Linked DNA regions of Homo sapiens: region 1 is linked to region 2. The links come from fine-mapping of genetic effects on gene expression. A gene starts in region 2. The other region holds a variant in brackets. All regions are shown on one strand. Distances are from middle to middle. Region 1 has its middle 38 kb from the start of HSPA12A. Region 2 holds the start of HSPA12A (heat shock protein family A (Hsp70) member 12A).

The links.
Region 1: its variant is fine-mapped to the expression of HSPA12A in lung (TOPMed, PIP 0.98). The same link has a PIP of 0.9 or more in fibroblasts.

What each region holds. Positions count from the first base shown.
Region 1 is chr10:116,774,175-116,786,833 of GRCh38, reverse strand. It overlaps a transcript of HSPA12A not described here. Among named protein-coding and RNA genes, the nearest start is that of HSPA12A, 38 kb to the right of the region's middle. RefSeq lists a silencer at 1,870-2,036 and enhancers at 6,940-8,139, 11,459-11,958. The variant C/T (reference allele first, on the strand shown) is at 7,561.
Region 2 is chr10:116,736,550-116,749,208 of GRCh38, reverse strand. It overlaps HSPA12A (heat shock protein family A (Hsp70) member 12A), which reads left to right and starts at 6,643. Exons shown (of 12, transcript NM_025015.3): 1 at 6,643-6,779. The coding sequence starts at 6,740. RefSeq lists enhancers at 5,370-6,073, 6,074-6,778 and a silencer at 6,329-6,778.

The DNA.
Region 1 (12,659 bases), 38 kb before region 2:
ACTCTGTCTCTACTAAAAATACAAAAATTAGCTGGACGTGGTGGTGGGCACCTGTAATCCCAGCTACTCAGGAGGCTGAGGCATGAGAATTGCTTGAACCTGGGAGGCAGAGGTTGCAGCGAGCCAAGATTGAGCCACTGCACTTCAGCCTGGGTGACAGAGCCAGACTCTGTCTCAATAAATAAATAAATAAATAATTCCCCAGGAGATTCTAATAGGCAGCTACAGATGAACGCCACTGAGACAGATGAGAAAAATATACCATTTAAATGTACATTTCTTGAATTATAAATGAGAACGAACATTTTTCTGTGAGAACAATGCTTTAGACATTTCTTAGATCATGGATCCCTTTGAGATTCTGACAAAAGCACTAGATCTTTTTTTTCTTTTTTTTTCAGGAAAATGTGCACACACGCACCTGTGCCTCTACCTGAGGGGCCATAGGCCCTGGAGCTGCTCCCTAGACCTCCCTAGAGTCCTGAGCCCAGGCTAGGGGCAAGGCGGAGTTGTTCTGCGCAGCCTGTTTCCCCACCAAATTACCAAAAATATAGTTAAACTTAGGAATTCAGTTTGATCCATAACATAAACAGTCTATTTTAAGAAGTATTTACCACTGTGTCTCAGCCCCTGGGAGCCCTGCCTTCCATGCAACCCCACTGCTGAGATTTGCTGAGAGTCTCTTCTGCAGAACCCGCTCCATCTCCTGCGTAATTACCCGAGAGGCTCCACGTGGGGCTTCTCTGGCGCTAACCTCATAGGTGAACCTCATGAAGCTACAAAGATTCCCAGTGCACAGGTGGGCGTTAGATCAGCAAAGGCCTCATGACGGGTGCAGGAGTCGGGATGTCTCCCAGGGCCACAAAGAGATGTAAGCAGGGGAGGATGCTAGACCACTCAGGCAGAGTCTGAGTAGGCCATGGGGTGGGCCTGCAGTCTAAGGTGAGGGGAGGGGGGGAAATAGGAGGAATCTTGCGGTATTAGGGCAGTGGGGCAGGAGGGCTCAGCGGGGAAAGGCAGAGTCAAGTGGGTGCCTGGCTTCTGGCTGGGATAACCGGTGGATGGCTGAGACCATTCCCTGGGAGGGAGGGGGTGACAGCAGATGCCAGTGCTCAGAGGGCAGGTGGATATTTGGGGTAGTGTGTGTGTGTCTGTCCGAGAGGAAGAGAGAGGGATCATGAACAGCAGCATGCGGTGGGCAGCAGAGCCCGAGTGTGCGTTCCCCCAAGGCTGGGGAGTGAGCTGGGCTTTATGAGTGGGCACCTGCTGACCCCTGCATTGAGGTGGAGGCTTAGAGGGAGAACCAGGGAGGCAGGCGGGGATCTGGGTGGGGGACAGCCGTCCTGGGGCTGGGGTCAGGCAAGAACATTTCTGTCACAATGCCCTGATGCCATGCTCTGCTGGTGGCCAGGACTGCTCTCAGCTCCCACATCTTGATCTCTGTCCCCGGGCTGCCATGTCCACTGGCAGGCCTGGGTCGGGGCCGTTCCTCCTTCCTCCACAGCAGCACTAGGCTGTGGTGGCCAGAACGTTCCCGAACAAGACATCAGTCCTTGCCTGTGTTCCAGAATTCATACTCCTCCTTCCCACTACCTGAGGCTTTGGACATTTGAATGATGGTGGCGGTGGGTGGGAGGGGGAGGAAAGGAATCTGAGAGTGGACATGCAGGGGTCAAGCCCCAAAGCCATCTCAGAGCAGGGCACAATGAGGGTTTCCAGGACGCCCCTCCCAAAGGCTGGGAAATGTCTCCTCTGGAATCCAAGCTCCAGAGCCTCTTGTTGGTCCTCAACTTGTTATTAGGGCCTGAGGTGCTTCATGATGCCAAGAAAAGAGGAACACAGCAGGGCCTAGAACCAGCAGGACTGGGGCCTCTCTGGTTTCTCCTGTTGGCTCCTGCCTAGGAGCAGCTGCCTCCCTGTCTGCTGTTGTAGACACGTGCCCTCAGCATCTCCAGCCCAGACTGACAGCTCCGAGGTTAGCGTTACAGGCTCAACCCCAGACGGAGAGGCTCTGTCTATGTTGATTTCTATTTATCCCATCTAGTCCAAAGATCCCAGGGAAGGGATTCATTGACCCAGCTCAGCCAGGGACTCATTCCTCAGCCAGTCAGCTGGGGCCGGAAGCACAAGTCCCCAACTGCAAGGGCAACACGTGGAGGGAACGGGAAGGAGCAACTCTTGCTAAAGGGACGCTAGGCAGACAACTTCATAAATGTCAATCATAAGCCAATCTTAAAGGCATTCACTCATTCCTGCACTCATCCATTCATTCATTCATTCATTCCCTCAACAAACCTTTATTGAGCACCTACAGAGTCCAGGTACCACTCTAAGTGCTAGGCTTACTGAAATGAACAGGACAGATGAACTTCTTGCTCTAGTGGAGCTTACACGCTAATAGGAAGATAAACCAATAAACGAGAAAGTGACCAGGATGTGAAAAATGCTCTGCAGAACAGAGAAATCAGGCAATGGACTTTGGAAAGTGCTCAAAGACCCTGCGCTGCCACTTGCAGGGCAAGGGGCCACCTAGGTCAGGAGCGGCCTGCCTTGGAGAGACATGCATCACCCCAGCCACTGCCCATTGGCCAGAGCAAGTCACAAGGCCCCAGCCTAGCCACAAGGGAAGCTGGGAAATGTGACTTTTGTGTGTCCAGGAAGAGGAAATGGGATTGGCAAGCACATGGCCAGTCATGGCTGTCCCACTTAGCCATCTGGTTCCCTAAGAGGTCAACACTGCAACCAGGTCCTGATGTGTCCTTCCAGTGAGATCTTTTGGATACATAAGAAAAAAATAGATGTAATTATGTAATTTTAAAAACCATAAATGGGCTGGGCATGGTGGCTCATACCTGTAATCCTAGCACTTTGGGAAGCTGAGGTGGGTGGATCACTGGAGGTCAAGAGTTCAAGACCGTACTGGCCAACATGGTGAAACCCTGTCTCTACTAAAAATACAAAAAAGTAGCTGGGCGTGGTGGCACATGCCTGTAGTCCCAGCTACTCGGGAAGCTGAGGCAGGAGAATCGCTTGAACCTGGGAGGCAGAGGTTGCAGTGAGCCATTGCACTCCAGCCTGGGCAAGAGAGTGAGACTCTGTCTCAAAAAATACCCATAAATGGTGGTATACTAACACACCATTCTGTTCCTTGCTCTTTTTTCCCCCCACTTAAGACTATATCACAGACAACATTGGAGGATTTGGATCTGGGCAAGAATGTGCCCCAGTTTATGTGTTACAAAACTCACCCTGGCTAGCGGGAGAGAGTGGACTGGGGTGGGGACGGTGGGTCAGGACTGTTGCAGCTGCTGCAGTTGACGGCTGTAGCTCTTTGTCCGTGTGCAGCCTGTGCTCCAGCCAAGTCCACCCACACGCTCATTCATTCAGTGCTTGACAGTCAATAATCGTGGGCAGACCCTGGGCCACATGAGTCAGGCTCTGTCCCTCTTCCCACTCACTGTGCCCCGAGCCATACTGCTGCACACTTTGCCAGGGCACAGGCCACCTTCTGCCATCCAGGCTCCTCTGCCACTGACTCCTCCAAATTCTTCCAGACATGTCTCCAACGTCACCTCCTCATCAAAGCCTCTCCTGATCCCCACAGCACCACGTCGATGGTGTGGAAAGAGGGACCTGGACTGGAGGTGTCTCAGCCCCAGCCCTTCCCATTGGCACTTCCTGGAGAAACAGCTTAGTCTTTCAGAGCCTCAGTTTGCCCATCTGTGCGCTGGACGTGATTGGTATCTGTTTAACACATTGCCTGTGTGGATTACGTGGGAAAGGCTGTGGAGAGACCTGGCATCTGAGTGGCAGGAGACATTTGTCATTTCCCTTCTTTCGCCTTGGGGCCCACCATGTTCTCTGCCTCTCTGAGGTTACTTCTAAGGCTTCCAGTACCCTCCGTGAGGGTGACCCTGTGTCCTGGGCTTGGTATGTTGCCAGGCATCAGGCCTGGGAGTCAGTCTCAGTGTCTACTCAGCGATTTTGTTGAAACTGAGAGTCCACCACCCAGCTTAAGACGTAGAACATTGTTGGCACCTGTGAATCTACTTGCACAAGCCTTGGTGATCCTGTCCTCTTCCCTGACCAGGCAGCCCCTACCCTGAATAGCATCTCATTTATTCCCTTGTTTTTAAAAAGCAGTTGATAGCATGTCTATGAGCCCTACCTGAATAGTCTGTTTAGTTTTGCTTGGTTTTTATGACAATAGTGTCACACAGGAGGCATTTTTTTGTGACTTGCTTTTTCTTTTGCTCCACATTACAACTCTAAGCATCATCCTTGTTGCTGGGTGTACCTGTAGTTCATTCCTTTGCAATGTTAGGTAATGTTCCACCCGGGACTATGCCACAATTTATTTATCCATTCTTCAGTCAAAGGACAACTCCCTCTCCCGATTTTGGTTGTTACAAAAAGCGCTGCTATCAGCCTTGTCATATACGCAGGCTTGGGCACAGGCACTAGGCTATGCTAGTGGGGTTGCTGTGTCAAAGCTCACGTATCTTCAGCTTTTCAGAGATTGCCAAATTTCCAAAACAGTCGAATAAGCCTCTTTCTAGCTTTGTGTAAAGATCCCCGGTGCTCACCCACTTCCTCACCAACCCTTGGGATAGTCACATTTCTGAGTTTTGTCCATCTAGTGAGCACAAAATCTCATCTTATGGTCTCACTTTGTGTTTTCTTGGTCACAGCTGAGGTTGAGCATCTCTGCGAACGTCTCTTTGCCCTTCTTGTGGGCCTCTTTTGTGACATGCCTGACCATTGTTCTCCCTCATTTTTGTATTGGGTTGTTTTTTGAAATTGACTTGTAGGAGTTTTTATGCATCCTGGATACTAGCCCTTTGTCACTCACAGGTGTAAGGAATATTATCTCCCAGTTTGAGACTTCCTTTTTACTGTCTTTTGATGAATGTTATGATCTTAATTTTAACCTGGTAGAATGAATCAGTCTTCTCCTTTACTGTTTGCATGTTTGAAGACTTGTTTTAAGAAATGCTTTGTTTGTTGAGTCAGATTGAATAGCTGGACCCAAGGAGGACACCCCCTACCCAACCTCAGAAAAGGCAGAGCCCACAGCAGACCCTCAGGCACTCGGTGTAGCTGACAGCTGAGAGATTGATTAAAAACTGGAGTGAGGCAAGAGAATGAAGGAGAGAGGCCGAGTGCTTTGAATTTGATCCTTTTAGCGACAATTAAGCAATCACCACACCACGGATGGGCAGAGAAAAAGGCTTCCTGAGAAACCGACACAGGCTGTGGCAGAGGCTGCCCTTGGCCTCACCTTGGACCCAGGGCTGTGGGGCTCCTGCACCACCCCTCCCCACTCCTCCCCTTCAGTTTTTATTGCAACATTTCATTGAGACAAGTGCTTCCCCCAGGGGTAAACTAGAGAGCCAGAGGACCATCTGAGAATGTACAGGGTGAAATCACTGAGGCCTGACCGAGCGGCATTCATCATCATCATCATCATCATCATTGGCACTGATTGGGGAGTAGAGAGAGTGAATCCAGAGGAAATCCATTTTTTTTTTTCTGTTTTCTTTTAAGAGGCAGGGTCTCACTCTATTGCCCAGGCTGCAGTGCAAGTTTCACTGCACCCTCGGCCTCCTGGGCTCAAGAGATCTTCCTGGCTCAACCTCCCAAGTAGCTGGGACTACAGGCATGTGCCACCATGCCAGGCTAATTTTAAAAAGTTTCTTTTTTGTAGAGACAGGGGTCTCACTAGGTAACACTTAGTCTCAAAATGGATGCCAAGGCAACATAAAATTTTTGAACTCCTGGCCTCAAGCGACCCTCTCACCTTGGCCTCCCAAAGTGCTGAGATTACAGGCATGAATCACTGCACCCAGCCAGGATGGGGCTAGGAGTGAAAGGGTCAGTGAACTTGAATAGGCAAAAGTTTATGTCCTTATTTTCATTAATCTCTGGCTGAAATGTAGCATTACTTTCAGTTATAAATGTAGAGGACAAACCAAACAATGTTAGCAATGCCTGTGACTCGTCACCCATAGAAATCACAGAGAGTTTTACATCCTATTACTTTGCTTGTAGATATTTTGAAATATCCACTTAAAAATTATGATTGTTATATAATTCTACTAGATCCTTGTTATTCAATGTTTTAATGAAGAAGCACGCATCATAATTTTTAAAAGGATTTGATAATCGTATTAACAAATAATTAGGTTCCCTGGTAATCCTACCTGGTTTATTTTATGCATTTAAAAACATTATTTTCCAGTCTGGGTAACATAGGTAGACACCATATCTACGAAAAATAAAATAAAATAAAATAAAATAAAATAAATCAAAAAATTAGCTGGGTGTGGTGGTGCGTACCTGTGCTCCCAGCCACTCAGGAGGCTGAGGTGGGAGGATCACTCGAGTGTGGGAGGTGGAGGCTGCAGTGAGTGGTGACTGCACCTCTGCACTCCAGCCTGGGTGACAGAGAGAGACCTTGTCTCAAAATAATAATAATTATTATATAATAAAATAAAAATAAATAAAAATATTGTTCTGAGGAGGGCTCTATAGATTTCCTCAGGTGACCGAAGAGTCCATGAAACAGGAAGGTTAAGAATTGGACTCAAGGGAGAGCCCTCTTCCTACAGGGAAGACACACCAACTCTTGTGATCTTAGACTAGCTCCAGGTATGGTGGAGGATGGAGGAGATGGTCTGCGACAGTGCCCTGCAGCTATGCAGGGAGTGACTGCTGTTCCTTGTTGCTGGGCAGTCCCTGTGGATGAACGGGATCTTTGCCCTTCGCGTGAGAAGGACGCAGTGCCCAAACAGCTTGCTCTGGCGGAATTAGTGGTCTCTGACTCGTGGCTGGCCTGGGTGCCTGCCTCCTCTAGGTAGGTCGAAGCTCCTTCAGGGCCGGCCAGCCCTTGTCCATGTTCTAGGGGAAGGGTGGCTGCAGTCCCCTAGGGAGTGGTGCCATGGGCCCACATGGAGTCGGGGTGCGGGGACGGAGTGCACTCAGAGCTCCAAGCCCTTAGGAATCCCGTCCCCCCTGCTAGCTCCTCTTTACACACACCCACCCTGTTTTCCCTTCACATTGGGCTTCGTGCCATTCCCCAACATGCCCAGCGTTATTCGGTTTCTGGAACTTCCTTCACCTCTCCCACCTGCCTGGGTGTCAATCAGGATAGACATAGCAAAGCTTGGGAGCAAATGACCCCCAGATTCCATCGCGGGCTGGCAGCAACACTGTTCCTGTTGTCTTTGTTCGGGCCTGGGGCTGACAGAGTAGCCTCCACCTGCAACCTTCCCTGTCTCCTGGCAAAGGGACAGAATATACTGACCAGGCAGAGTGTCACTGCCCTCATGTCTCATCAGGCAGAGTCACGTGGCCACACCCGAGTCCAGCAGAGCAGGAGTGCGATGTGGTTCTCTCTGAGGGAGGGGCCACAGCCCTGAGGTGCCCCACCCTCATCTCCCCAACCGTGTCAGGGTGATTCTGTCCCCATTGAAGATTCACCCAGGCCCCACTGGCCCTGGTCTCCTCAGTAGGTGCTTGTCTCCCCTCCCTGCTACTCTTGTGTTTGGGGTGGGCACC[C/T]GGATCAGCTTCGATCTAGCTTGCACTGGACCTTCCGTGTTGGCAGTGACTCATTACACCCACATGTCCCCCTTGGAGTTCAGCCACGATGTGTCGCTCACGATGTTGCGAAGGGAAGCAACTGCCGATGAAGGCCCTGGAGGGCTTGGAAACCACGTGCCTTGAGTGATGGCACTTGGTTGGAGAATCAAAGAAGGATGTTTTGTTGCCTAACTTGAAAGGAGCTAACTGACCTATATCAGGCATCAGGATTAAAGACCTGTGTGACCCAAGGGCAGACAGACCCTTCCACTCTGCCATGGACTTCTTTCTGTTTCTGGGTTTGTTGTTGTTGTTGTTTTGAGACAGGGTCGTTCCATCTCCCCACTGCGAGTGCAATGGTGCAGTCACAGCTCACTGCAGCCTCAGCGTCCTGGGCTCTAGCGATCCTCCTGCCTCAGCCTTCTGAGTAGCTAGGACCATAGGCACATGCTACCATGCCCAGCTAATTTATTTTATTTTGTTTTATTTTTCATAGCGGGTCCCATCATGCCATCCAAGCTGGTCTCACCATGTTGCCCACCACACTGTTCTCAAAGTTTTGGGCTCAAGCGATCCTCCTGCCTTGGCCTCCCAACATGCTGGGATTTATAGGCTTGAGCCTCCATGCCCAGCCTGGACTTTCTGATGAAGCCAGGCTTGGGTTGTGGGAATTATGGGGAATGTGCTGACAGGAATGACTACACAAAGCTTCAGCCAAAGTGCAGCTCCTTTTGAAGGAGCCTGAGCTCCTTCAGGAGCAATGTGGTTCTCTCTGAGGGAGGGACCACAGCCCTGAGGTGTGCCACCCTCATCTCCCCATCCGTGTCAGGGCGATTCTGCCTGCTTTGAAGAACTGCTTCCTTCTCTGACCTTTCTGTGTAAGGTCGGCTGTTAGAGCACCAGCTGGAGGTTTTGGGGGGAATAGTCAGTGCCCAGTCATCCTTTGGTGAATTAACTGCATTGGGCAAAATTAAGTGCATTCATGAAAGAAAAAACCTACTAGCAATCAGCAAAAACATATGCATATTTAAATAATATATTGCTTGGAAATGTCAAGTAACCATCTTGGGACTAGTGTCAGGGCATGTACCTCCCCTTTCCCAAGCTGCTGTGGCCAACCAAGGCCCCCCCAATGATGTGCGGCTCCTCCTGAGAACCAGTTGTTAAATTTGCAGGGATTTTGTGGGCCAGTTGTTAAGCACAGCCATTATTAAGAGTTAAATAACAGGCTGGGTGCAGTGGCTCGTGTCTGTAATCCCAGCACTTTGGGAGGTTGAGGCGGGCGGATCATGAGGTCAGGAGTTTGAGACCAGCCCAGCCAACATGGTGAAACTCCGTCTCTACTAAAAATACAAAAATTAGCTGGGCATGTTGGCACATGCCTGTAATCCCAGCTCCTTGGGAGGCTGACACAGGAGAATCGCTTGAACCCAGGAGGTGGAGATTGCAGTGAGCTGAGATTGCGCCACTGTACTCCAGCCTGGGTGACAGAGTGAGACTCCGTCTCAAAACAAAACAAACTCAGCATTTTCTAATTGTTTTTGTGCATCTGATCTGACTATTGTCGATGCACTTAAGCTTATTTGTGTCTGTTGCAGCTCTGGGATGGAAACGTAGTGGCGTGCGTCTCTTTACAACTCCGTATTCGGTGACATCATGTGGGTAGCTGAAAATCAGCCATGGTGGGGATATGTACACCTGGGAAGTCCACACATGTCCCTGTCTGGTCTGGGCACGAGGAGGCCTGAGTGGCAGGCTCTTGGGAACTGGGTGTGAGGGTGGAGGCACCAGGTGGGGCAGGAAGGAGGAGGAAGAGGCCAGCAGCAGCTGCTCTGTGGCTCCGTCCACCTGAGGACTAATGTTTGAAAACTGCAGAATTTGCAAAGAAACTCATAGCAATAATTATTCTAAAAGATACTGTTTTAAGTCATTTCTTTTATTATTTAGATTATTTTGGTTGCTTGTCAGTGTGACAGGCCATGCCTGAGCTGTCCATGTAAAGTTCCCAAGGGGCATAAATGGGAGACTGCAGTGCAGCCTCAGATGTGGGGGGACCACCCAGTGCCACGCGGCAAGAACTTAACACCCGGGTGTTGACGAGGCAGGGAAGAAAAGGGGCGCATCTGCAGCTCAGCGCCCCTCCAGCCTGGCTGGCGTCTCACACTACTCATGTCAGAGAACAATTCAGCGGGCTACACAGGAGCCATGGTCCACCCAGGAGCTTTCTTACAACCTCCTTCCCCTGTGCATTGCTTCCTTGATGCTTCTGCAGTAAATCAAATTAAAAGCAAACTTGAACCAAGTCCAGGTTGTCAATATCTCCCATTCTCGAACCTAGTCCAGATTCCTGGTACAGACATTAAGCATCTTATATGATGCCTCACATCCCTAAATTATCATATTTGCATCAAACTTTTAAGGATATACATCTAAAATACATTCTGAAATAGTGTTTATGATTCTAATTAAGATTACATTAAGCCCAGTTTTTAGAGTTTTAAGCATTGTATATGGAGTTAACAATTAAGAAAATAAAACTCATGTATTTTTAATTGCTCTTATATTTTGATGCTCTGTGGCATCCACTGAATCAATGGCTTGAGTACTTCAGGGAAGCGGTGGATTCTGCTACAATAATAAATTCGTTGTTCACTTTGACGATCAAATTAGGCTTTCCATTTTGTTTTGTCTTCTAGGCAAAACAATAGTCTTGAATGCCGGGTTTTGTTAAGAAAAAAAAAATTTTCTGAATTCCAAAGCTTCTTTCTAAATATAAGGAATCAATCCCGGCTGATTTTGAGCGTAGAGTTTTACTGTAAGCCATAAATAGAAGGAATTCTGGATACAATGGAAGTGAGTTCCTGGGAGACAGGAAGGCAGAGGAGAAAGCACTATGCTTTGCCTGGGAGAGGTTTGTTGGGGGTGAGACCAGCGGGAGGAAGCGGCCAAGAGCTGGAGGCTGCTTTGAGCGAAATCCCGAGGCAGAGGGGGGCGTCCAGGCGGACGGACCTGAGATGCTCCTTGTTGTCCACCCATGACACCTGCCTGTGTCCCACAGGAGTCCCAGGGGTGGGCCACAGAGGTGCTGAGGCAGGGAGGGGGTGAGGTGGTCACCCAAAACAGGGACCTGGGAACCAGGAGCAGTGGCACTTGTCTTGGGTACTGGGGGGCAGTCAGCTCAGTGGACAGAGACCAATGGGATGGGTCACTTAACTGGAGGCCAGAGGGGACGCAGAGGATGGCAGGTAGACCCAAAGCCCCTCACTCACCACCAACGTGAGGCCACATTAACTTCTTTTATGGCACTCAGCTGCCCCCAGTCTAGTCCCTGGTGGAGTCACATAAGAGAGTCTGTGCCAGGCTGGGGACCACAGTAGAAGGCATAGCTCCCCAGCTGCAGGAGCCCTCACAAGACCCCAGGGACAGAGAGGTCATAGGGGCTGCAGGATTAGGCCAGGTCACTGTCTCGGGGAGGAGTTGGGAAAGGGCTTGAAAGCCCCCTGTTACTTCTGTGCCCTGATGTCCCCAAATCCTCTGGCCCCCTGGCCTGAGTGTTTCCTTTAGCAAGCAAATGAAATGGCCCCAGCACCTTCCCAGCATCCGAGCACTGAGGAAAGTCAGGGCTCACCCAGCACTCCTGTGGGGAGAGGCGGGAGGTCCTTCTTCCATCCCCTCTCATCGGGTGCCCTGAAAGTCAGTATCACGAGGCTGTCAGTGGGAACAGACAGAACTGACCAGGAAACAAACTTCACGGTCAATGTTAGATTTCCTGTTTCTAGAAAATACATTGGCCATTTCCAGCTACAGAGACTCCCTTCCCAGGCTGCCCACTGGCTGGCCCCCGTCCTCCCCAGGGCTCTCTAGAAGAGACAGTGTGGGGTGACAGAGAGAGCTGGCTTTGCAACCGGACAGGCAGGAGTTCAAATCCCAGGCTCCCGTCTCACTGGCTATGTGGCCCTGTGTGACCCTGGGATCTTTCCTTCCTGAGTCTCAATTCATCCATCTGTAAAATGGGAGTCCTGAGGCCCTATCCATAGGTTTGTGAGTGGTGGGATAACTGATATAAGGAACTCGCACGTTCTTAGTACAGAATCAGCACTTGGTAAATGGCAGCAATTGCTGCTATTGGCTTCTGGCCCAATCCCTTGGGGGCACCTGTGCCAGGTGTCTGGGAGGACACTAATAAAGAGTGACTCAGCAGAGACAGCCACAGGATGGGCGGGAGGGAGCAAAGGAATGCTGGAGTCCCCCAAAGCAGCACAGTTGGGAGCAGTGGCGGTGGGTGTGTAGCAGTCGACCTGGGGCCCTTGGGGAGGGAGTGGAGTGACAGGATGCCAGCTGGACCTATGCCATGGCAGTATAGCCAACACGAGGGGCTGGTGCAGGAGCCGGCAGGACTGGGGCCTGCAGGGGCCAGGGTGGAGGGCTCCAGGCTTGTGCAGCCTGCAGGGTCAGGGTGGAGTCAGGCCAGGGCCACGTGGGCAGGCATGGGACTGGGGGAGGAGCTTATTCAATGGTGGACCTGGGTTTTCTGGTGGGTGAATGAAGGGGTGCACAGAAGGCCTCCCTCTCAATGTCCCACTCTCCAATCCTTTCTCCTAAGAGATGGATCTGGGCCATGAACTCCTGCTCCAAAAGGCCAGTCCTCTAGCAGAGCCACGTCTGTGAAGAGACCCAAGAGCACCATTGACATTTCTTTATTCCAGGGGTTCTCACACTTTGGCAAGAGTGTGAGATGTGCAGTTGCTGGGCCCTACCCAGAGTCTCTGGGTCAGTAGATCTGCCTTGGGGCCTGAGAATTTGCATTTCTATTAAGTGCCCAAGAGTTGTTAATGCTGCTGGTCAGGGACCACACTGGTCAGGGACTGAACTAGGCATTGGTGCAGTATCACCTGGGACCCTCGCAGAGTGCTCTATGGCAAATATTTCAAAAAAGCCCTTGCCGGCCGGGCGCGGTGGCTCACGCCTGTAATCCCAGCACTTTGGGAGGCCGAGGCGGGCGGATCACGAGGTCAGGAGATCGAGACCATCCCGGCTAAAACGGTGAAACCCCGTCTCTACTAAAAATACAAAAAATT
Region 2 (12,659 bases):
GTCATTCGGCACTGGGCTATGGGCTGGAGAAGGGGAAAGTCATTTTTCTCTATAACGTGAAACCCTTGGCTCTTATAAAAGTGCCGTGGAGAAATGGGGTGGCATAATATATGGAACCATAGGTTGGGTGGGGAGGGTCCTTCTCAGGAGCTGCCCTTCAAGGTGAATCAGTGGGATGACACAAGGTAGGAAAGCAGACAGCAGGGGGTGAGGAAGGGAGAGGAGCTGGGTCTGCTCTGCAGATGAGGAGACTGAGGCCCAGGGACAAGTGACTGGTCCCAGCTCCCACAGGGCTGCCACCAGGAACCCAGTGATATGGTTTGGCTGTGTCCCCGCCCAAATCTCATCTTGAATTATAGCTCCCACAATTCCCACATGTCTTGGGAGGGACCTAGTGGGAGGTAATTGGATCAGGAGGGCAGCTCTTTCCCATGCTGTTCTTGTGTAGTGAATATGTCTCATGAAATCTGATGGTTTTATAAAGAGGAGTTCCCTTGCACAAGCTCTCTCTCTTTGCCCACCGCCATCCATGTAAGATGTGACTTGCTCCTTCTTACTGTCTGCCATGATTGTGAAGCCTCCCCAGCCATGTGGAACTGTGAGTCCATCAAACCTCTTTTTCTTCCCAGTCTCAGGCATGTCTTTGTCAGCAGTGTGAAAATGGACTAACACATCCAGTGACCCAAAGATAGACAATATTTGGGCTCACTCTTGCAGAAGTCACTGAGAAAAGTGCTGGTTTCCCTGAGAAGAGTAGCAATGAGGATGGTGACTTAGTGTGCATTCCTAACTCTGGGGTTTTTGGAGACTTGTGCAAGCATTGCTCTTGGACACTGCTGTTGAAGCTCTCAGCCCTCTGGCTCAGATAACACCCTTATTCTAGGTCATTGGTCTCCTTCTCCTCAGCTGTATGCTGCCTGTACCTCTCCTCCAGGCAAATACTGTGACCATGGGCTTGCTACCAGGAAGAACACAACTGTGCAGACATGCCCCAGTGAGTCATCACCAAGTAATCACAGCTAGCACAAGCTATCTTCCACTTTGTATTTTGCAGAAGAGGCCAACAAGGGTCAAGGGTTAAGCTGGGCTGGGAGTCAGGGGGCTGAGTTTGACCGTAGCTCTGTCACTGATTGTGTGACTTTGAACAAGAGGTTTAGTATCTCTGAGCCCATGTTTCTACTTCATTATTTATTTATTTTTTATTTTTTTGAGATGGAGTTTTGCTCTCGTTGCCCAGGCTGGAGTGCAGTGGTGCAAACTTGGCTTACTACAACCTCCACTTCCCAGGTTCAAGCAATTCTCCTGCCTCAGCCTCCCAAGTAGCTGAGATTACAGGCACGCACCACCATGCCCAGCTAATTTTTGTATTTTTAGTAGAGACGGGGTTTCACCATGTTGGCCAGGCTGGTCTCAAACTCCTGACCTCAAGTGATCCACCCGTCTCGGCCTCCCCAAATGCTGCGATTACAGGCATGAGCCACCATGCCCAGCCTCCATTATTTATTTACTGGACCATTTATTCATTCCATCCACAAACATTTACTGAGTACCTACTGCAAGCCAGGCACTGGGCTGTGGGCTGGAGAAGAGGAAAGTTGTTTTTCTCCATAACATGAAACCCTTGGCTCTCATAGTGTCTGGTGAGTTGCAGCCCTTGTGAAAACTCTCCTGGTCACGTGATCATGCCAGTTTCTCTTCTCTGAACCTTTGTCTCAGTTTGCATTGTCCTCCTTGAGATGTGGCTTCCGGGATGTCCCGTCTTATTAATGAACCGGCAGCTTTGCAGGGCCAGGGTTTGAGCAGTTCTGAGAATGTGGCTGCGAGACTAACCATAGACGAGCCATTGCTATTTGAAATACTTACGAAAAATATTTGGATAACCTTCCATTACCTGAGAAGGCATTTCTAAAGTTTACATTGCAGTCCTGAGTGATGGTGATATTTGGAGCAATAATTTCCTCTGGCCCTTGAATTTTTGCCTGAAAGAGTGGCTCAGCAGCTCACATTGTACATGTGAAGGTTGTTTTGGAATGTTAATGGAGAGACCGATTCACACCAGATGGACTGGAAGACCAGTGAGGTGGGGAGGATGTATACACTGGCCACCATGATTCAGCTGTAAGGCTGGCTTTTTAAAATGCACTGACAGTTGGAGGTCAAGGCGGCTGACATTTGCCCAGGTTTTCTCTGCAAGTTTTTATGTTGCTTTAGCAAATCTGAATCTTGGTCCTGTTATGAATTAGTCTCTTTTATGATATTCAGTTCATGGACAACGTTCCGCTGGCATATCCTAAAGTCCAAAGCAGCTTTGACGGGCAGTGTCCTATGTCAAAGTTCAGATATGAACTCATATCAGTGTTTCTTAAGCTTAACAAAAACATAAAAGAAAAATTAAAATGGAAAAAGCTACTCATATCTTCTGTGTGTCTTTATCAGCCAAGAAAATCTTGCCTGGATCCATTCTGTAATTTATAATATACAAGGAAATGGCATTTTTGTGTTCAAATATATAAATTAAATAAGTCATATTAACAGTGGCATATATAGGCTGACTCTAAATGGAATGTTTTACATATATGATCTCTTATAATTATGATACCTATCATTACTGGGCCCTTTTGACAGGTGAGGAAACAGACCCAGAGAGGTATGTCCCAGGTCCCCTGAGGTGGGCAGGGAGCAGCTGAGCCCACTTGAGCCCTGGTCCAGCTGACCCCATGCTCTCTGCTTCCTCCTGTTGTACTTTTCTCATTCTTGGTCCTGATGCATCCCCCAGGGCTCACTGCCCTTAGCATCTGGTCCATCAACAATTATCCTCAGTTTCTTCTGAGCTGGGGGCCAGAGGACTCAGCTGCCTCCCCTACCCATGCTGTGCATCATGTCCAGCCCTTTCCACAGTTGGTAGTTATAGCAGGTGACAGAGTGCCCTGGCTGTCTGGTGCAGTTAGCTGGGCCTGCCTCTGGACTCTGACTTCTATTTGCATGAATGGATGTGGTGGGGGTTTGTTTGGGGGCTGAAGAGCAGAGAGGGAGTCTGTTGGCAGGGAAGCGTGTGTGGGGCTGTGGGTGAACGGGATCCCGGAGAGGATGAGAAAGGCCTGAAGCTGAGGAGGCTGTTTTCCATCAATGTTTTGCTCTCTGCGCCAGGCACCATCCTAGGGTCTGGGGGCTCTAAATGTGGACATGGCTGGTCCCACTTTGGAGAGCTGGCAGCTAGAGGGGGAGGTGGGTGACCTGAAGCTGGAGAGACCTGAGTTCTGGTCTCAGAGGTCTAGTCTCAGCACTGCAGCTTCTGAGCTCAGTGACCTTTCTGTATCTCAGTTTGGTCATCTGTACAATGGGGTTAACAATACTACTGACCTTGGAGTTGTTGTGATAAGTGCTAAGATAGGAGTGATGGGGGGTTGGGCACAGAGGAGAGAGGAGGGGCCTCATGTGATCTTGGAGGGCTAGGTGGTGTCCTGGAGGAAGTGCCATCCAAGCTGAGGCCTGTAGGAAGAGACAGGGTTGGTTACCTGGCAAAACTAGAGGAGAATCGGCTTCCAGTGGAGGCACTGGCTCTTTGGGGACCTGAGGGCAGGCCCTTGAAGCTGGAGTGACCAGCAGGAAGGGAACTAGAAGGTGGTCACTTGGCTCTGGGCTGGGCCACTTTTTAGGACTTGAGTATCCAACCGAGATGTGTAACATTCTCTCCACCAGCTACCACAGTCTACAGCCTGTGGAGGGTGTGGAGGGTGGAGAAGAGATGGTATAGAGGGTGCTGCAGTGTACCCACAGAGAGCACTGTGAGGAGGAGTCTTTGGAGGGGAGCTTGAGGGAACTTGGTACAGAGCAACCTCCCAGGAGTCTGGGCGTGCCCTGAGACAGCTGGGGCTGTGGAAAGGCATGAGCCCTGGGGGTCAGCAGAATGTCTGTGTGCTGGGCTGTGTTCCCGCTTCACTTACTGATTCAGCCAGTCAAGCATCAAGGATTTATTAAGTGCCTGCCATGTACCAGGCGCTGTTCTAGACACAGAGATGCAGAACTGGCAACACAGTCCACGATCTTGCTCTCCTGGGACTTACTTCCCAGTGGGGGCGAGGCAGCAGTTTTAGATAGAGTGTTCTGGGAGGAGCAAGCCACGTGATTGATTCTCTTGAAGGATGTGTCCGGGGGAGTGACCCCCCAGGTGGGGCCTGTGTGTGTTTGGGCTTTGGGGGGAATGGGAGAGTGGAAGGAGCTGAGGTCACTGAGGCATCAGGAGGCCAATTTGTGTAGGACCTGGTAGCAGGAGAATGACATGCTCTCTCTCTGGCTGCTATTGGGGAAGAAGACTCCAGGGAGGAAGGTGGGAACCCTTCCTTGATGTGGCGTGCTGAGCCTTGAACCCCAGCCTTGCTGCTGATGGCCAGAGGATGCCTGAACAGGTGCCTCAGCCTTTGAATGCTTCCTTTTCCTCTCCTGCAAAACCGCAAGGGCCACCATGAGAACTAGGTGAGACCACAACAGCCCCTCGCTGGCGGGCTGGATGGTGTGCTCAGCAGGGCGCGTTGTAATTAGTGTGATGAGCATGAAGGCCGTGAGGGCAAATCCCAGGCAGAGTGTGCGCTGCCTTTCATGCTCCCCTGCAAATCAAAAGTGTTCTGCTCTCTGCCCCCAGCACTGGGGCCTGCATGTCACCTCCCATCCTTCTCACGCACCCTCATGTCACTGTGGCTGGGAGTCCCATGAGGGCACGTGGCGCCCAAGGCCCTTCCACAGCAGGAGGCAGATGTGCAGGGGCTACGGGTTTCTGCTGCTTCTGACAGGCTGTCAAGGCCAATGTCCTGATGCCCTGGTCTGATGGGGAGGAACGAGTGCCTTGAGGACACTGAGGAGGGCCCCCCTGGCCAGCATGGGTATGCAGGGGAGCCTTCCTGGAGTTGGGCAGTCCATGATGAGAAGGAGAAGTTCTTAGGTTGCTGGTGGTGGTGAAATGAGAGGACGGGTGATCCAGGCATCAAGCACATTTTCATGTCTTTGAAATACCAGCATAAGAGAAGCAGGGGTGGGTGAGAGGGATTGAAGAATCAGAGCGGCTGTAGCTGGAGCTGGAGTAGGGTGGGGACAGACCAGATCACAAAGCATGGACTGAAGGGGTGAGACAGGAGGGCGGGGGAGCTGTGGGCAGGCTGTCGCAGGCACGTAGGCAGGAAGGGCCCTCGGGGGCCATCAGTGACTTAATGATTTTTACCATGTGCTAGATCCCAAGCTAAGCATGTTACATGCATAGTCTATCTAATCTTCAGTTTTATGAAGTGGGTTCTCCTGTTATACCCATTTCGCAGATGAGAATATTGAGGCTCAGATAGGTTAAATAACTTGACTGTGGTTTCATGCACAGCCAGGAACTGTCCATTTGGGATTTTTAATGCAGGCAGACAGAAGACAAGTTTTGTGTTTTGAACTTGTCACTCTGCCATCACCTTCTGGTCTCCAGGCTCTCGCAGCAGCTCTCTGCCCATTCCGTCATCCATAACGCTCTCGCAGCAGCTCTCTGCCCACTCCGTCATCCAGAACGGGATTGTACGATGAAGCCTCCCCTAGGTGATCTTTGGGAAATGCCACCCATCTCTGGAAGTGAGGGATGCTGGTGGTTACAGCTGGGTGGGAATCCCAGCTCCGCGACTCACCTGCTGGGTGTGATATTGTAACCCTGCCGATCCTCAGCTTCCTTATCTGCAAAATGTTAGTTATGGGGAGGAAAGGAGATAGAGGTAAAGCACCAGGCAGGTAGCACAGTGCCAGGCACCCGGAAACGACCCAGTGACGGTGCTCCTCGGATTCCTATTACTGCCCTCGTTTGCCAAGGCAGGGTGGTGACACCGCGGACCCAGGGGGTGCCTGGCCAGGCCCAAACAGGTGCCAGCGGCGCGTGTGTGTGGAGGAGCTGGGGACAGGGAGTATGAATCATTCACAACTGAAGCCTTGCATTATTAATATCGTTATTCTCAGACTTCTAAGGAGGGCCCAGCTGGATCCCATATATGGAAGGCGCGACTCAGCCTCCGGGGCAAGCACCTCCCTGGGTCCGGAGTTGCCATGGAGTCCCGCAGGCGGCCTGGAGGCGGTGCCCCGGGCTCGGCCCCCGCGCAGGTCCTTGGTCTGCGGCCTGGGTCCTGCCCGCGCCGGGGTCCACCCAGCCCGCCTTTGCGCCGGCCCAGGGCCGCTCCCCTGGGACCCTGGGGGACAGACAGAAGCTGGTGGGGACTGGCGCGGGCGTCCTCGGGAGAGCGCCGGGCGCGCTGGGCTTGCTGAAGGGCTCCAGGCCTGGCCATTCGGTGACTTCCAAAGAGGGGACGCGCCGCGGGGCCCCGAGGGCCTGAAATCCGCTCCCGCAGCGCAGCCCCGGGCGCGCCACTACCCCCGCCGCGGTCGACTGCGGGGCGACCGCTCGGTCCCGAAGCCGGGAGAGGAGAGGCCGGGCCTCGGCGGGCCGCTCTGGGCGGGCGGGGAGCGCAGCTCCGGAGCCAGGCAGTTCCCCGCGCCCGCCTTCCCCGACCTTTCCCGGCCGGCCCGAGCTCGGAGGGGCGGGGCGCCGGGCGGGCCGGGGCGGGGCCCGGGGAGGAGCCGTGGCTGCGGCGGCTGCCGCGTCAGAGCAGCGCTCCCGCTGCCCGGCGGCTCAGACACGGCCCGAGCGCCGCCGCGGACGCGGACAGAGACCCGCACGGGCACGGGCGCTGCGCTGGAGGCTCCCCTCGCGGTCCGGGGCTGCGCGACCATGGCGGACAAGGAGGCCGGCGGCAGCGACGGGCCCCGAGGTGAGCGCAGGCTGCGGGTCCTGCGGCCGCGGCTGGCGGGGCAGGGAGGGAGGAGGCGCGCTTGGCCCAACGCTCCGCACCCCCTCGCGCGCCGTGGAAAAGTGGGGACGCCCGCGCTGCATCCAGTTCTGGCGGGCGGGGCCGGGGTCAGCAGCAGCGGGGCCGGGGGCCGGGGTCCGGTGGACCGGAGACGGCCCGCGGGTCACATGTTCTGCGCCCCGCCAGGGTGCGGACTCCGCGGCGGGGACTGCAGCCCCCGCTGAGGCGCCTGGTTGGTCCCTGCCTCGGGTGGCGCCTCCTGCGGGGCTGGTCGCGCGTGCGGGTGAGGACCGCCCCGCGTGTGCAGCCCCCGCGCGATGGGCTGCGGAGGCCGGCGCTGGCTGGGTAAAGGGCCCGCCGCCGGGTGGCCGGGTGGCCCCAGCGGGTAATTTTCGTGACTCAGCGAGGCAGGAGTGGGAGCCTGGGGGAAATCGGAGATTTGGACCTGTTCCCTCGCCCCATCCCACCCCGGCCGGACGCTCGAGCCAGGAGTGGGGGCTGCAGCTGCGGCCGAAGGGCTTCTCACCCACCTCCCCGCCCATCCCCAGGGACTCACTGGGCTGGGGAAGGGTGAAGCGGCGGGGGTTCGATGGTCCCTTCCTTGCGGGGGGCAGGGGGAGGCACCCAGTGCGGAGGACAGACGCTCGCATTTTGCAGATGTGCTAGGGCCGCTTTCTTTGGGGAGCGTGATTAGGGCTCCGAAGGGTGGGGGAGCCGGAGAGGACGGGGAAGGGGGTTGCGGGAAGAGGACGAGCAGGTTTCGGAGCCCAGGGCTGTAAATCAAGGCTTCTCCCACGGAGGGCCCGGCTGGCCAGGATTCCAGTCTTCCTGTGGGTCCCAAGTGGGGAAAGTTGGGCGCATGGAGGCGCCGCGCGTCCCTGACCTGCAGGGCCTCGGCGAGAGCGGCCGCCGGGGAGAGGAGCGCGGCCCAGGCATCTTTCCCGGGAGCGACAGGCAAGCCGCCTGCGAGGATGATATTAAAATGCCGGGACGCAAGGGAGATTCAGCCACGAAACGAGCGCTTGGCTCTGCGGGGCCCCAAAAGCTGGAGAAACTGAGTCCAGTGGCAGCACAGCCACCATCTGCGCTGGGTTCCCTGTCTTGCTGTCGGGCCTGCGGCCCCCACCCTCTGCTGCACTCCAAGCCGCACCTGCCCCCACCCCAGCCCATTGTTCCTGCGGATCAGGGAGGTGCCTCCCCACGCGGCACTGCAGTGGTGGGGGAGTGCAGGGTGGCGGGTGGGGGATCCTGACAGGGCTCACTCCAGGGAGAGGCAGCGGAGAGCCCAGGCCGTCCCCAAACACACACCCAGTCCCCGCCTGTACTCTTCCTCAGCTGGTGAACGCAGGCAATGGACTGGCAGCTGTCTTTGTCTGAACATCACTCAGCAACTGGATTGACTCTTTTTTTTTTTTTTTTTTTTTTTTTTACTTTTTTCCTTTAAGTCAGAAAATAAAAAAATTTTTAGGACGATAAGTAGGGGCGTTGAATTGCTAAAGCCTGAGAATTACTGAGCCAGTTTCTTGCCTCTCATGCTGGGATAGGGTGGGCGATGATACCAAATACAAGGTTGGGCATAGGATTTGTCAAATCAGAAGTGGGCAGGAATGTGTACCCACTCCCCACACCTTTCCCAACACTGTTTTGTCTTGTAAATCAAATTCAGCACCCCTATCCTAACACACACACACACGCACACACACACACACACACAGACACACACACACACACACACACACACACACACACACACGGTGCTGGGAGAAATCCTGTCCAGGATGGGGACACCCATACCTGGTGTGCCGAGCCACCTGCCACCGCTCTTCTGCGTTTGTTCTGGAGTATTTGTTTCTTCACTTCCAGTCATCTCCAGCTCAAGGTGGCCAGTGAGAATTCCAGGTGCATGGACTTAGGACAGAGACCAACCTGAAGAGCGGGCTGTCCCTGGCAGCTCACTGTGCCTCTGGGCACCTCTCCCTTTATCTGTAAAATGGAGGATGTGAATAGTATTGCATAGGAGCAGAGTTGGCTTGCCCCTGGCCCCTACACTTATTTCTAAGGTTTCCTCATTGCTGGGAAAAGAGCGTGCATTATTTTATTGTTTTAAAGGCTCACAACAAACCTGTTACCAGCATTCTCCCCTTCCTGGGTGGGAAATCCAAACACAGGTTGAGTGACCTATCCAAGGTCACACATCTGGGAAGTGTTGTTTGGGACCCAGGCCATCTGATTCCAGGGCACCAACCTGTGCATACAGCCCTTATGCATGTGTGCAGTGGTTACCACTCTATTAAGGACATAAAAAAATGGTTGTGCTTCCTGGGAAGGATTTCCAGAATGTTTTTGGTACAAAAGGATGGGTGCCACAAATATCACACTGTTGGAATTTGTGAGCAGTGGCAGTCCTGGGTTGGGGAGGGGTTTGCTGGTGGGTAGGTGGTGTTGGGGGGTGGTGTCAGAAAGGCTGGCCATGAAATCTTCTCCAACAAGTGCAGTTGGGGTGGGGTGGGGAGTGGGCAGAGGTGCGTGCCAATGAAACAAGAATGGCAAAATGTGGTAGTTGGGTGATGGGGAGCGGCGGTTCATTACTATTCTGCTTACTTTGTGTATGTTTGCAAATTTTCTTAATAAGATGTTTAAATTACTTAATTTACAAAATCTGAAGGGCCACACTTGAGGGTCTGGGTGTTGGACAGCAAAATTTGAGATGACCTTCAATCCTGCCCCCTCCCGCATGACCTGAGTGGGTTGACACATGGAGCCCTAGAAGGGTGAGATGAATTGGGGGTGGACAGAGTGGTTCGGACAGGGATGGCTCCTATGGTGACCAAGTCAGGGCTAGACATGAAGAGTGGAAACCAAGTCATTTTTTCCAGGGCACGGGCTTGAGGAGAGGGATGGTGGGCAGGCAGTTTTGCCTGGGTTGAGGGTATCTCTCGAGGCCTGGCATTGGGCTTTGGAGATGCCATCCTGGAGGTTCATCTTAATAAAAATAAACATTTTAAACGTTCACTTTTATTGAGGACTTAGTGTGTGCTGAAACCTGGGAATATTGAGTTATCTCATTTAGCCCTGACCACGTTTGTTGTTGAATGAATGACTATGAAGGACGCCCTGTGATCCCCATTTCACAGAGGAAAAAGCTGACAGTCCTAGCAGCGCACAGCTGGAAGGGGGCCTAGGTAAGGACCTAGGCCATGGGATGCAGGCCCCAGGTGGTCAAGCTGAACAGCCTCTCCTGGCATGTGCCTGGCATGTCATAGGCCCTCAGGGACTTGTGTTGAGTAGGCCTGCGGCTAATAGAGAGTGGCTGCCCTACTTCCTTCAGCCACCAAGCTGTAGATGGTAGTGACAGGGCGCTGGTTATAGCCCCCAAAGGAAGTAAGCAAAGGTCAGGGTGATGCTCTGGGCATTGCAGGTTAGGGTTCTGGCTATGGGATCCACTTCCGTGTCAACATCTGCTGCTGCAACTTGTCTGCCGCCTTGGTGGTCCTCCCATGCCTTCTGTGTATGTCCCTACACAGTGTCTTGTGTTTCCCAGAGCCTTGTGATCGCCTTTGGCCCTGGACACATGCAGTCCTCCCTGCTTGGGACATCCTCTCTTTGTTTAGCAAGGTCCTACTCATCCTTCAAAACTCAGTTAAGGTATCACCTCTCAGGAAGCCTTCCTGGGCTCATCCATCGGGATGAGATCTGCCTGTGTGGTCCCAAAGCCTTCGGTACTTAATGGTTGATAATTCCAACTAGTGTTTGTTGAGGCCCTACGATATGCCAGCTTTGTATGCCTGTATCTCATTGACTCCTCCAGCAACCCTGTGAGGCTGGCATTATTATTACCCCATTTTGCTGATAAGGCAATTGAGGGCTTTGAAAAACTTGCTAACTTGCCCAACCAGTGAATGCTGGAGTTGGGATATGAGTCAGCCATGGAGCCTAAAATCTTGTGCTGTTTCTCTCAATGCTCTTTCTTCCGAGAAAGGCGTGGACTATGTCTTTCATTTCCATTTTTTTTTACTAAGGACACTAGTAGGTGTTCAATAAATGTCTTACTTTTTGTTGAGTGTCAGTCAGCAAGACATGAGGGAACACAGCAGAGGGCAATGGCGTCTACATCTTGCCCACTCCGCAGTGGTGCTCCTGGAAATGTGGATGCTCAGGAGTGGGCCAAGCTGGAGGGGAGTCAGGCAGGGCTTGGACAATCTCAGAAGAGAAGCTGCTTTGATTCCAATAAGGCCTGGAGTGACGACTCAATCTTGTGGGGGCGAAATGCTCTCTTTTCATATAAATAGGCCTCTTTGGTAAGGGAGAAAGCATCTTTATTACTGCTGTGCATAATTAGAACAGCGGGGAGGAATCAGGGGCTTTTAATGAATGAGCAGCGTGTGGCAGGGAATGAGTGAGCGCCTGCCACTGCGGGCACCCCCAGGCCTGGGCATCCCCAGGAGTGAGCGGGGCCAGCGAGGAGACGACCAAGGAAGCACAGGCAGTGCTCAGAATTGAAACCTGCCCCACTGAAGCGGGCCCTGCTGATCCTTGCTGCGTTCCTGTCATTGCAAATGACTCCCAGGCTGCAGCTTTGCAGATGCTGCTCTGAGCTCTGCCAGGACCACCCCTCTTCTTCCAGCCTTGACCGTGACCTGGCAGCCGCAGATGTCCTGCGGGGCTGGCAGCTGCTCCATGGCACCCCTTCTGGGCAATCCTGAGCTGCAGAGTTTTTGCCTTGATTTTAGTCCCCTTATTTTTAGGGTGGCCATATGTCCTGGTTTGCTGGAATAGTTCTAGTTTATGCCTCTTTTCCTAGTGAAATTAGTAATAATGATATCTTTCACCTTCTAAGTATCTCAGTTTGGAAGGTGAATTATGTGGTTGCGCTCCTTATCTTTGTCTTCTCAGCCATCCGGGCCTCAAGACGGATGAGGGAGGCAGTAGGGTGTGCAGGTAAACCTGGGCTTTGGTCTCAGATGCTTGTAACATCTGGGTTTAACGTTGCTGCATCTGTTTTTTCTGCTGTAGACAAGGACGATTAATAATCTCTGCTCTACTGGGGTGCTGTGAGAATGAAATGAGAGAGTATTTGTAATGAGCTTAGGTATGAGCCTGGTACACAGAGGGCTCTCAGTAACTTCCAGTCATTTTATTATCATTGTTAGGTTGATTTGGGAAGCGTAGTGGTTAAATGTGAGATCTGGGGCCAGACTGCCTGGGTTCAAATCTGTGCTGTGTCATTGACCTGCTCTGTGACCCTGGCAAGTTACTTAACCCCATAAAGCCTCAGTTTTTCTCATCTGTAAAGTATGGATTATAACAGTCTCTTCTTCATATGGCCTTTATGAGAATTAAATGAGTTTTTATATGAAAAGCACTCAGAGTAGAGCCGGGCATGAAGTAGACATTGAATTAATATGAGCAATTATTATTGGCTGTTATTGTTATTATGAATAAATGTCCCAACTTACATTCTTGTAGGCAGGAGGAATTATCCAGTACATTTGTTTCCTATTGCTGTTGTAAAACTTACCACAAATTTAATGGCTGAAAACCATACAAATTTATTATCTTACATTTCTGGAAGTCAGGAATAAGTCCAAAATGGGTCTCCCTGGGCTAAAACCAAGGTGTTGGCAGAACTGTATTCCTTCTGGAGGCTCTAGGGGATAATCCATTTCATTGCCTTTTCAAACTTCTCGAGGTGACCTGCATTCCTTGGATCGTGGCCCCTTCCTCCATCTTCCAAGCCCATCACTCCAGCCCCTGCTTTCATTGCCACATCCCTTCTCTGACTCTGCCCCTCCTCCTCCCATTCCCTTTCTAAGGACACTTGTATGAGGACCTCTTATTAGG